Linked DNA regions of Homo sapiens. The protein of the gene in region 1 purifies or fractionates together with the protein of each later gene. This does not show direct contact. Each region holds a gene or a part of one and is shown in the gene's direction. Other genes may lie near its edges.

What was found.
Region 2: the proteins of TNXB (region 1) and PAK6 purify together in Homo sapiens (affinity purification with mass spectrometry, with the first as the bait; one large-scale study listed by BioGRID). This does not show direct contact.
Region 3: the proteins of TNXB (region 1) and HELZ purify together in Homo sapiens (affinity purification with mass spectrometry; one large-scale study listed by BioGRID and IntAct). This does not show direct contact.

The regions. Positions count from the first base shown.
Region 1 is NC_000006.12:32,040,653-32,043,487, reverse strand, and holds the end of TNXB (tenascin-X isoform 3 precursor), read left to right. Parts: coding exon 1-51; intron 52-169; coding exon 170-313; intron 314-406; coding exon 407-537; intron 538-656; coding exon 657-789; intron 790-881; coding exon 882-1,033; intron 1,034-1,125; coding exon 1,126-1,222; intron 1,223-1,314; coding exon 1,315-1,476; intron 1,477-1,553; coding exon 1,554-1,717; intron 1,718-1,843; exon of another isoform or gene 1,844-2,037; coding exon 2,038-2,139; 3' UTR 2,140-2,335; downstream 2,336-2,835. Other genes in the region: CYP21A2 (steroid 21-hydroxylase), read right to left, coding at 2,354-2,619, 2,717-2,820. UniProt on the Homo sapiens protein: Appears to mediate interactions between cells and the extracellular matrix. Substrate-adhesion molecule that appears to inhibit cell migration. Accelerates collagen fibril formation. May play a role in supporting the growth of epithelial tumors.
Region 2 is NC_000015.10:40,242,037-40,245,685, forward strand, and holds part of PAK6 (serine/threonine-protein kinase PAK 6), read left to right. Parts: intron 1-3,649. UniProt on the Homo sapiens protein: Serine/threonine protein kinase that plays a role in the regulation of gene transcription. The kinase activity is induced by various effectors including AR or MAP2K6/MAPKK6.
Region 3 is NC_000017.11:67,069,872-67,074,273, reverse strand, and holds the end of HELZ (probable helicase with zinc finger domain), read left to right. Parts: 3' UTR 1-3,830; downstream 3,831-4,402. UniProt on the Homo sapiens protein: May act as a helicase that plays a role in RNA metabolism in multiple tissues and organs within the developing embryo.

The DNA.
Region 1 (2,835 bases):
CCCCCCAGAATCCTGTGGACACCTATGACGTCCAGGTCACAGCCCCTGGGGGTGAGCAGGCCTGAGGCCTCTGGAGGGGACTTGTTCAGGGTGGGGATTGCAGGGGGGAGGCTGGACTCTGGCCGAGGATGGAGGGGGCAGGCCTTGATGCCCCTCTCTACACTCCCAGCCCCGCCTCTGCAGGCGGAGACCCCAGGCAGCGCGGTGGACTACCCCCTGCATGACCTTGTCCTCCACACCAACTACACCGCCACAGTGCGTGGCCTGCGGGGCCCCAACCTCACTTCCCCAGCCAGCATCACCTTCACCACAGGTAGGGTCTGTGGGGTGTGTGGGACAGGGAGAGGAGGTAGAGGGAGCCAGGTTGGGCCTCATCCCCATCTCCTCTTCCTGCTTTCCCTCCTAGGGCTAGAGGCCCCTCGGGACTTGGAGGCCAAGGAAGTGACCCCCCGCACCGCCCTGCTCACTTGGACTGAGCCCCCAGTCCGGCCCGCAGGCTACCTGCTCAGCTTCCACACCCCTGGTGGACAGAACCAGGTGCCCCGGCCCCACTGACCCAACTCCCCTCCCTGGGTGATTCCAGGAGGTGCTGCCTCTGGCCCTCCCGGAGGGTCTCCACCTCCCTCTCCCCTGACCCCCCCTTGTCTGTCCCACAGGAGATCCTGCTCCCAGGAGGGATCACATCTCACCAGCTCCTTGGCCTCTTTCCCTCCACCTCCTACAATGCACGGCTCCAGGCCATGTGGGGCCAGAGCCTCCTGCCGCCCGTGTCCACCTCTTTCACCACGGGTACCTGGACGCACGGGCCCGGGGCCGGGGGCTGGGTGGGCAGCCAGGGCCTAAGGCTTGGAAAAGGACTGGCCCCTGCTCTCCTCTCCCAGGTGGGCTGCGGATCCCCTTCCCCAGGGACTGCGGGGAGGAGATGCAGAACGGAGCCGGTGCCTCCAGGACCAGCACCATCTTCCTCAACGGCAACCGCGAGCGGCCCCTGAACGTGTTTTGCGACATGGAGACTGATGGGGGCGGCTGGCTGGTGGGTGGCATTGGGAAGCCCAGGGGTCTGTGCAGGGCAGGGTCTGTTGCCCCGGGAGCCAGAGGCTGATGGTGCCCCCACTTGCTTCCCAGGTGTTCCAGCGCCGCATGGATGGACAGACAGACTTCTGGAGGGACTGGGAGGACTATGCCCATGGTTTTGGGAACATCTCTGGAGAGTTCTGGCTGGGTCAGTGCCTCACAGGGACTGGGGAACTACGGATGGGGATGGGGGCCCTGTGGACACCAGGACCCTGATGAGGGCACGTATCCCACCCCCAGGCAATGAGGCCCTGCACAGCCTGACACAGGCAGGTGACTACTCCATGCGCGTGGACCTGCGGGCTGGGGACGAGGCTGTGTTCGCCCAGTACGACTCCTTCCACGTAGACTCGGCTGCGGAGTACTACCGCCTCCACTTGGAGGGCTACCACGGCACCGCAGGTAAGCAGAGGCTGTGAGGCTGGGAGGGTGAGGCTGGGAGGGGAGGCCCTCATGGCTCCTTCCTCCACCCTGCCCAGGGGACTCCATGAGCTACCACAGCGGCAGTGTCTTCTCTGCCCGTGATCGGGACCCCAACAGCTTGCTCATCTCCTGCGCTGTCTCCTACCGAGGGGCCTGGTGGTACAGGAACTGCCACTACGCCAACCTCAACGGGCTCTACGGGAGCACAGTGGACCATCAGGTGAGGGGTGGGGAGGCGGCTCAGAGCTGGGGTGGCTGGGGCTCGGCCTGCCTAGGTTTCAGCCCCACAGTGTAACAGGCAAGGGACTGAGTGGCTGGGTGAAATGGAACAATCATGCCAGCCTCGCAGAGGGAGCTGGAGTTGATTTATTGGCTGGAAAGGGCCAGCTCAGAATTAAGCCTCAATCCTCTGCAGCGGAGGGTCAGGAAGGGAGCTCTGCGGGGAGGTTGGTTGAGTGCTGGGAGCTACCTCCTTAAGGGGAACGGGAAGAGCAGATGGGACATCCGGCTTTGACTCTCTCTTGACAACCCCTTTCCCAGGGAGTGAGCTGGTACCACTGGAAGGGCTTCGAGTTCTCGGTGCCCTTCACGGAAATGAAGCTGAGACCAAGAAACTTTCGCTCCCCAGCGGGGGGAGGCTGAGCTGCTGCCCACCTCTCTCGCACCCCAGTATGACTGCCGAGCACTGAGGGGTCGCCCCGAGAGAAGAGCCAGGGTCCTTCACCACCCAGCCGCTGGAGGAAGCCTTCTCTGCCAGCGATCTCGCAGCACTGTGTTTACAGGGGGGAGGGGAGGGGTTCGTACGGGAGCAATAAAGGAGAAACTGAGGTACCCGGCTGGCATCGGTCCTGCCCCATCACTGGCTCTGGCCCGGGCTGTGGGCCCCCATCCCCCGGGGCTGCAGCCGCACTTGGAAAGGCTGCATCTTGAGGATGACACTGCAGTGGGGCAGGGGCTGCAGGGAGGGCAGGGCGTCCCCGGAGGGCAGCAGCGTGAAGGCCTGCAGCAGTCGGGTCAGCACCACGAAGAGCTCCAGGCGCGCCAGCGGCTCGCCCAGGCACACGCGGGCACCGCAGCCGAAGGCCAGAGCTCTGGAGTTCTTGCCTGGCTCCAGGAAGCGATCTGCGGGCGGGTGGACAGGTGGGTGGGGAGGCGTTCAGCGGCAGCGGGGACCAGCCTCCACCACATTTTCACGGCAGGCCCCCGGCCCCCCACATACCAGGCCAGAACTCATGTGGCCTCTCCCAGACCGTCTCATCCAGGTGGGCGCCTTGGAGGTTCGGAATGATGACTGTGCCCTCAGGGATGTCGTAGCCGGAGATGCTGAAGGGGGCTGGA
Region 2 (3,649 bases), on another chromosome or scaffold:
AGAGGGGCGGAGGCTGTCGAGCACTAGGTAGACAGCAGGCCAGCAGCGGGCAGCAGGTTGGGCCAGGAGGGAGCAGAGAGTAGGGGCCAGGGCAGGCTGAGCAGGAAAGGAAAAGGCTGCCTGGGGTCCTGAGGGCTCAGGGAGGACTCCAGACAGCTGGCCTTCTTATGCCAGCCCGCTTCTGTGGGAGAGGCCCTCTGCGTAGGTGACTGGGCAGGGAAGAGGCTAAGACACTGAAAGATTGAATTCCTCACCCAAATGGCCCAGAGATGCCCACCGCACACAGTGTCCTGGGTGCAGAAGGCAGGAAGGACTCATGGGAGGCTGTCCTGTGGACTGAAGCAGAAAGTCCTTCCCGTAAGATGCGCTCGTCGCCCTGAGCAGGAAGGCCCAGGCTGCGGAAGCAGTGCCTGAGACCTGAGCAGCAGGAAGGACACCAGTAAAGCTCATCAGGAGGCATCTGGCCGCCTGCACCTACCGGGCCTCAAGGAGAGAGCTTATTTCTGGGAGCCTCCTTGGTAGAAAGAGGTGGACTAGCCAGCAGGTTGGGGAGGAGCATTGCAAATGGAAGCTTCTGAGGGCAGAATGAGTTCTGAACTTGCTGAAGCCAAGGCTGGCCCTCCTGCCCAGGGCGAGCAGTCTGCCTGGGCCTGGGAAGTTGTCCCCTTCTGAGGAGGTGCCCTCCACCCCACCAGAGCTCAGCCCTAGGGGCCAGGAAGGGCTAAAGCGAGAAGAGTGAGATGTGAGATAAAGGGGACCGTGTCTCTTCCTGGGAGGGTGTGGGGTCCAGGCAGCACCTTGTTCTGGCGCACAGGCTGCCAAGCAGATGACAGCCATGGCCTGACTACTAGGTGCAAGCACTGGTGGCAGGAAGAGGGGGTGGACAAAGCAGGACAGAGCTCTTGCCCTGGGGATGCTCATAGCCCTGCAGCAGAGCAGTGGAAAGGAAAGCTGAGCTGAGCGTGGGGCCAACCGCGCCAGAAACAAGCGGAGCCACAAAGCCACCATCAGCCCCCAGGTGGCTTCGTCCTTTTGCCAACTCTGGGTCCAACTCATCGCTGAAGTTGGCAGCCATGACCCATCCAGCCCAGATAATTTATAAATTTACACCAATACTGGGCAACGGTTCTTAACATAGAACTTTATAAAGATGGACAAAAAAGATAAGTTGAGAATGACAAACAAAGGAAGAAGCAGCTTCTATCTGCAGTTGCAGGAGGAGGTGAAGGCTCGGGGAGATAGACCAGGGCGGGAAGAGGCAGGATGGTGGTTGGTTAACATGAAGTCAGCAGCATGAGCCTCAGGCCCGGTGCTGCCTCTTCCTGGTGACTCGGGCAAGTTACTTCATGTCTCTGGGTCTCAATTTCCTCTCCTGTCCAACAGAGATAATTATAGTACCTATGAGTTAGGGTTGTTGAGAGGATTAAATAAGATAATAAGTGAATGCTCTGAATGGCATGACTGGCACATACGTACATGTTCAGCAAGAGATAACTATTATCACCGTGATGATAACTGGTGTCAGAGGAACAAAGTGCCAGGAGAGACCATACCTTGTTCGGGGGAATCAGGAAAGGCTTCACGGAGGAGGTGACTTTGAAAGAACCCTCCTCTGAGGAGAAACAAAAGCTCTCAGAATGCCCAGGAAAGCTGGGAAGAAACAATAATGCCAGGTCTATTTTTTTCCCAAATAGCATATTGTTTGTCCACTGAGGCTTTCTAAGGAATAACTTGAGACTCCTCTTTCTGGGGTCTAGACTTGGAGGTCTTGAGGACTTGAAGTGGGCTGCCCCTAGTGAAGGGATCGAGAGCCGGGCTGTGGCCCTGGCCCTACTCCTTTTGGGGACTGGAAGCTTTTTTCACATGCTGGTCCTAACTGCATGAGGAACTGTGTTCTGCTGAGCCCCATCTAAAGCATACACTTGGTGATGTGGCAGGCAGAGGGGCCAGACAAGGCCACGGCAGGCTCCTGGATCACTCTGGCAAGTAGCTTAGAAATGCCTAGTAATCGTGGGCAAGGTGCAGTGGCTCACGCCTGTAATCCCAGCACTTTGGGAGGCTGAGGTAGGCAGATCACAAGATCAAGAGATCCAGACCATCCTGGCCAACATGGTGAACCCCGTCTCTACTAAAAAATACAAAAAATTAGCTGGACGTGGTGGCGCGTGCCTGTAGTCCCAGCTACCCGGGAGGCTGAGGCAGGGGAATCGCTTGAACCCAGGAGGCGGAGGTTGTAGTGAGCTGGGATCGTGCCACTGCACTCCAGCCTGGCCACAGAGCAAGACTCTGTCTCAAAAAAAAAAAAAAAAGGCCAGTAATCGTGAGGTTCCATCTCAGAGACTTTTGTTTTCTCTTTTTTTCTTTTTATTTTTTTTTTTGAGACAGAGTTTCGCTCTTGTTGCCCAGGCTGGAGTGCAGTGGCACGATCTTGGCTCTCTGCAACCTCCGCCTCCCTGGTTCAAGCGATTCTCCTGCCTCAGCCTCCCAAGTAGGTGGGATTACAAGCACCCACCACCATGCCCGGCTGATTTTTGTATTTTTAGTAGAGATGGGGTTTCACTATGTTGGCCAGGCTAGTCTCGAACTCCTGACCTCAGGTGATCCGCCGACCTCAGCCTCCCAAAGTGCTGGGATTACAGATGTGAGCCACCACACCCAGCCTGCTTTTTCTACAAAGGATTATCTGTTCTATGAATTTAGGAAAGGTAATCCTAAAGCTTATTCACCTAAGAAAAACAAGGCAACCCCAGAGCATGACAGGCTTTCTTGGGCTGGGGGAACTCACATGTGAAAAAACAGGTTCCCTCATAACTACATGAGAGGCCGCAACTGCCTCAGCCCCAGCAAAGGGACACCTCTGCTGGCCAGCATTTCCTACAAAACCTCATCACGACACATCAGGCAGGGCAGAGACCCAAGTATTCACATAGGGCCAGTGATGACTTTTTTTGACACCTGTGGATTCTCCGTGGCAACCTATTCCCCAAAAGTGCTGCCTCGGTCAGCCAATCCCAGTGTCTCTCTGCCTAGGCAACAATCTCTTGTGCTCTGGTCTGCCCACAGCCTCCATGCACTCAGCTCTTTGGGCCTCTTGCTAAGGGGCTGGAAGCAGAGCTGTGTCCTTCAGGCTGTCAAGGACCTGGTGAGGGATCCTCTGGGTGTCCAGGGAAGCAGGTTCAGAAAGCTCAGTTCAGCTGGTGCTGTATTTTGATCTCTGATCCCAGTGCAGCGGGGACCAGCCTACTCAACTCAGTGCAGATAGCAACAAACCAGTCACCTTGCCCAAGACCTCCTGCTGCCTGCCTGCCTGCCTGGTGACCAGGACTCCTAAAGGCTGCAGCAGCAGCAGCAGAGTTAAAACTTTAAAACCGGGAGGACTGGTTCTGTGGCTCAGCTTCCTGGCCTGGAGAGGCTCTAGCCTCCATTTTCTTTCTTTCAGCTTATGGAATTGTGCAAGAAAGCACAGAGGGTGGAGGGAGCGAGGGGACCAGTTATGCCACAGCCTCCTGCACCACCAGAGCACAGTCTCAGATCAGCAAAGAGGAGCTCTGAGGAGGAAAAGGCTGCCCCAGGAAAGAGCTGGCCATCTCAGATTGCTGTAGCACATTCAAGCCAAAGGGAGTCCCCGGAGGATGTTTCGTCCAGCCCC
Region 3 (4,402 bases), on another chromosome or scaffold:
TAGCCATTGTGTTTTTTTTTTTCCCTCCAGCTCCTCAATGGTAGTAATTTGTCTTTTATGATTTACCGTACATTATTTCTTGCTCACCATCCCCTTAACATATGAAAATCCTTAATTTCTACTGCCGCGCTATATGTCTTCCTGAATCTCAAGGTATAAATGTCTTAATGGATCTGATTTGTCTCCACTCTTTGCCATCTGATCCACATTCAAACCGCCTAGAAATTAGAAAGAATAGGTAATGTTCTATCTACGATTTCTTGTTCAAAATATCACGTAGTGGTGCCAATCACTTACAAAGACACCATCTCCATCTTGAAAGAGTAACTGGCATGTTAGTCTTGAAAATGCTCATTATGATATGCTCCTCACATTTCCCATCTGCTTGAGGATGGACATTTATTAGCTGAGACTTTAAAGCTGCTAAATTCACACTTTCTACTTTCATACCTTTTTAATCAGTAATGTCAAGACCATTGTTGCAAGGAGTGAATCTTACTAAACACATCCTGTTATTACTTTAAACTAGAATATGAGATTCAAGAGATTTAAAAACAATTTTAATGTAACGTTTAAAATTTTTGAACCAATTGAGAATGTCTACTTTGGAGTGAAGTTTAAGGAAACAGTCACCAGAGTTTCTAAAAATTTTTTGGAGGGAGGTACCTAATAGAAGAATCTAGACTTAGAAATGTGAACTGTGGTTAAATACCAAACCCAGTTCCGCAGTGGTCGTCTAAAGCGTCTAAAACTGGAGTGTTAAGAAAACCCAGAGACATTCATATAGTTTCAGTTATCAGAGTATTAGACCAGACTTTATTTGCAATTTGTTCAACAGAGAGATTTTATTTTGATACAGATATTAAGCATAAAGCATAGTAAGTTTTATATAATTCTATGAGTTCATTAAACAATATTATGAAATTTTCATTATGTTCGTGGGGAGTCTTTTTAACTGTTTCTACCTCATATATGAGGTCTCTTCTGTATTTTACTTTGCATACTAGCATGTGATTGCCTGCCTTAGAACTATGTAGAGGAGGGGAAATCGATATTACCTTTTAAGAAATTTTTGATTTTATGAAGTGTTTTCATTAATACTTTTTTAATGTTTGAGAAGTAAAGGGGAAAGGGTGGCAAATTACATAGGTTGCAACACAGAGTAGAAGTCACATAGTACTATTTACAGATCTGTCCTGTTTTAAGATTTGAGAATTGTGAACAGGATGGAGCAATGGTTCTCAAACTTCAGCCAGTATCAGAATTGCCTCGAGGTCTTGTTAAAATTCAGATAGCTGGACCCACCCCCAGCATTTCTGATTTTGGTCTGGAGCCTGATGATTTGCATTTCCAACAAGTTTCCAGGCGATGCTGATGCTGCCAGTCCAGGAACCACACTTTGAAAATCACTGGGTCTGATTCTCGCAGTTTGAAAGTCTCAGAGACCTTCAGAGTCTGAACGTCTTTTCAACCATGTATTTATTTACTCAGTGTAAAAAACTGATCTCTGGAGACATTTTTATAAATCTGGTGCCATGACTGGAACATTTGTGGAGAAAGGTCTCCATGGAGCGACAGGCCCTTTGGATTGGCCACCACCCCTCCTCACTCTCACCCCTGCTGGGGTCTGCACTGCTCTTCCGCAGTAGGGTGAAGGAGCTCTTTGGTTTTAGGGTGAGTTTGCTTTTGTGTACGCTGCTGCCTGGACATCAGTCTGGAAGCTGTGCATTTGTTTGGTGTGCTTAGGGTCAATCTTGATCCACATGCATGGAAGTGAGAATCCTGGAAAGAAGCCATCAGAATGCCATGAGAGTGCACCTAGCATGTATCGAGGCACTAAGTGCAGGAGTCCCTGTCCTAAGATGGCAGTGACATGGAGCATCGAAAACCACAGATAATCCTTAAATAATAAAATAATAGTTTTGTTTTTTTTTCTTCGGGGCAGAGTCTCGCTCTGTTGCCCTGGCTGGAGTACAGTGGCATGATCTCGGCTCACTGCAACCTCCGCCTCCCGGCTTCAAGTGATTCTCCTGCCTCAGCCTCCCAAGTAGTTGGGACTACAGGCATGCGCCACCACGCCCAGCTAATTTTTGTATTTTTTAGTAGAGACGGGGTTTCACCGTGTTGGCCAGGATGGTCTCCATCTCTTGACCTCATGATCTGCCCGCCTCGGGCTCCCAAAGTGTTGGGATTACAGGCATGAGCCACTGCGCCTGGCAAATGTTTTAGTTTTTATGGTTATTATTATTTTTTTTTTTTGTGGGGGAGGGTGGTGAGGGCAAAGGATTTGTTTTTCAAATTATGTGTTTCTCAGGTTAACAAAGTTATTTTAGATTCTCTGCCATGCCAGCAGGTGTTAGAGAGAGCCTGAAGTGTTACATATGGCAGAAAATAAATGTCTCTGATTACTTTGCTACCTTTAAAAAAATCTATATGTGTTTGCAAAACAGCCTAGGGGGATCTACCACCTACACAGCATGAATTATTCATAAGTCATAGGTGCACATGTATGAGCAAGTTATTTTTGAGAAAGAAACTGCCTATAATATAATAAACCTGTCAGGTCTTTGGGTATTGTTTAATTTGTGTGTTGTTGCTGTTTTATCTGGACTGCATCTTGGGGGGTACTGGGCTCTGCTTCTGGTTTTTAGTTTGCCTTTGAATTTACTGAGCTACTAGAAAGACAAAAAAAAGCTATTTTTATGGTAATAGAATACAGAATGACTTAGGTGTAAAAGTACACGTGAAGACCATCGTAGAATATACAGCTTTGGAGTTTTCTTAAGACACAGTCCTTCCTACTGAAAAGGCTTGCTCACCTTTGGAGAGGATTGTTTATATTTTCAGCCTGGGTTCCTTTATGCAGTCCCAACTTAGAGGGGAGCTTCGGTTTATTTACACTTTGCTTTGCACGATAACTTGTATGCGAAGACCTCTTTATATCTTTCAGTAGGTCAGAGGGCTCTTTGTCCTGGTTGAAGTCCCAAAGTGTCAGTGCAGCTGAGAATGTTTCTCAGCCTCCCCCTTTACAGAGGAAGGGTCCTGGATTTTCATAAATCCAGACCATGCCTGCTTCCTATAAATCCATGTATATGACATTGTACTGTATCTGATTTCTGTGCCAGTCATCTGACCTGATTCTTTAAACCCCATAAAGGTACTGGCTATATGTAGTAGTTGTATCCTAGGTAAATATGGTGATTAAAATACTTCTCTTCTAAATTATAAAGATAATGAGTTTTGCATTTTATTAAAGGGTCCTGTTATTAGTGACACAGGATTTTTTTTTAATGCTTCATACATATAGTTCTTATCTAAACTTGTTCAGCTAACTTCATAGATCAGTTACTTAGCAAATTCATACTGAGTCTTATTTTGGGAAGTCTTCCTGAGGGAAGCTGTACAAAACTGAGGTGGTCAGGTTCATCTCTTCAAAGTACCAGTTATACAGCCATCTAAATAGGCATAACTTATGGCAAAATTATAACAATTTTTTTTCTTTGCAGTAAATGATACCTCATCTAAGAGGCTCTAATACCTAAAGAGTTTATCCTTAAAAGTAAAAGTGACTTTGTACCATAAAATAACCCCAAAGCCACTCTCTAGGGTTTTTATTTTCTTCTTTCTTTGTCTTTATCTTTTCTAACTTAGTTTTGGAATTACGTTAGCTACTTTGGTTCCATAGAACAAGTTTTCAACTTGGGGTCTACAGTTCCTACAGTGTGCTCATTGTCTCAGTGAAGTTCTTTTGTTTTCAAAGATTCATGGTAACAAAATGTATTTTACTGCTACAACTAAAATGTATTTATAATAAAATGCCTTTTTAATAATTTGGAGATGTGTTTATTATGTGTGAACTATAATTCTCTGCTTCCTTCTGCCCTTAAGGTCAAAGGTCTGACTGAAGTTAAGCACAGCCCTTTGATTTTATTCCTAATAGTAAATGGTAAAACGAATGTAACTGAGAACTCAGTGTGAATTTGTAAAGTTCTAACTCTACTTTCCAGACATTTGTGACTTGGCTTAAATCCCCTAACTTCAGCAGTAATGCTTTTAAGACTTAAACGTGTTACCTGAAAGTTTAAAGATCTCCAGTGGTCAGTGAGAAAATAAGCCCTTTTCAAACAGTCATTCAACAAATATCTTACAAATTTAAGAAAATTATCCTGAATTACTCTTAACAAGTCACTTAGTTGTTAATGCGGCCCAGAATTTATTTGAGAACTCATAAACCTAGTTTGTAGTGATATATTATGTAGGTATAATCATGCACTTCACAGTAATGCGTGCCAAACATTAATTCAACAATCCAAAAAAAAAAAAAAATGCTGGTTGTGCAGAAAATTGCCCTGAGTCAAGGTCTTGTTTTTCTTGGGGAAATAATTCTTTGCATCTGCCATGA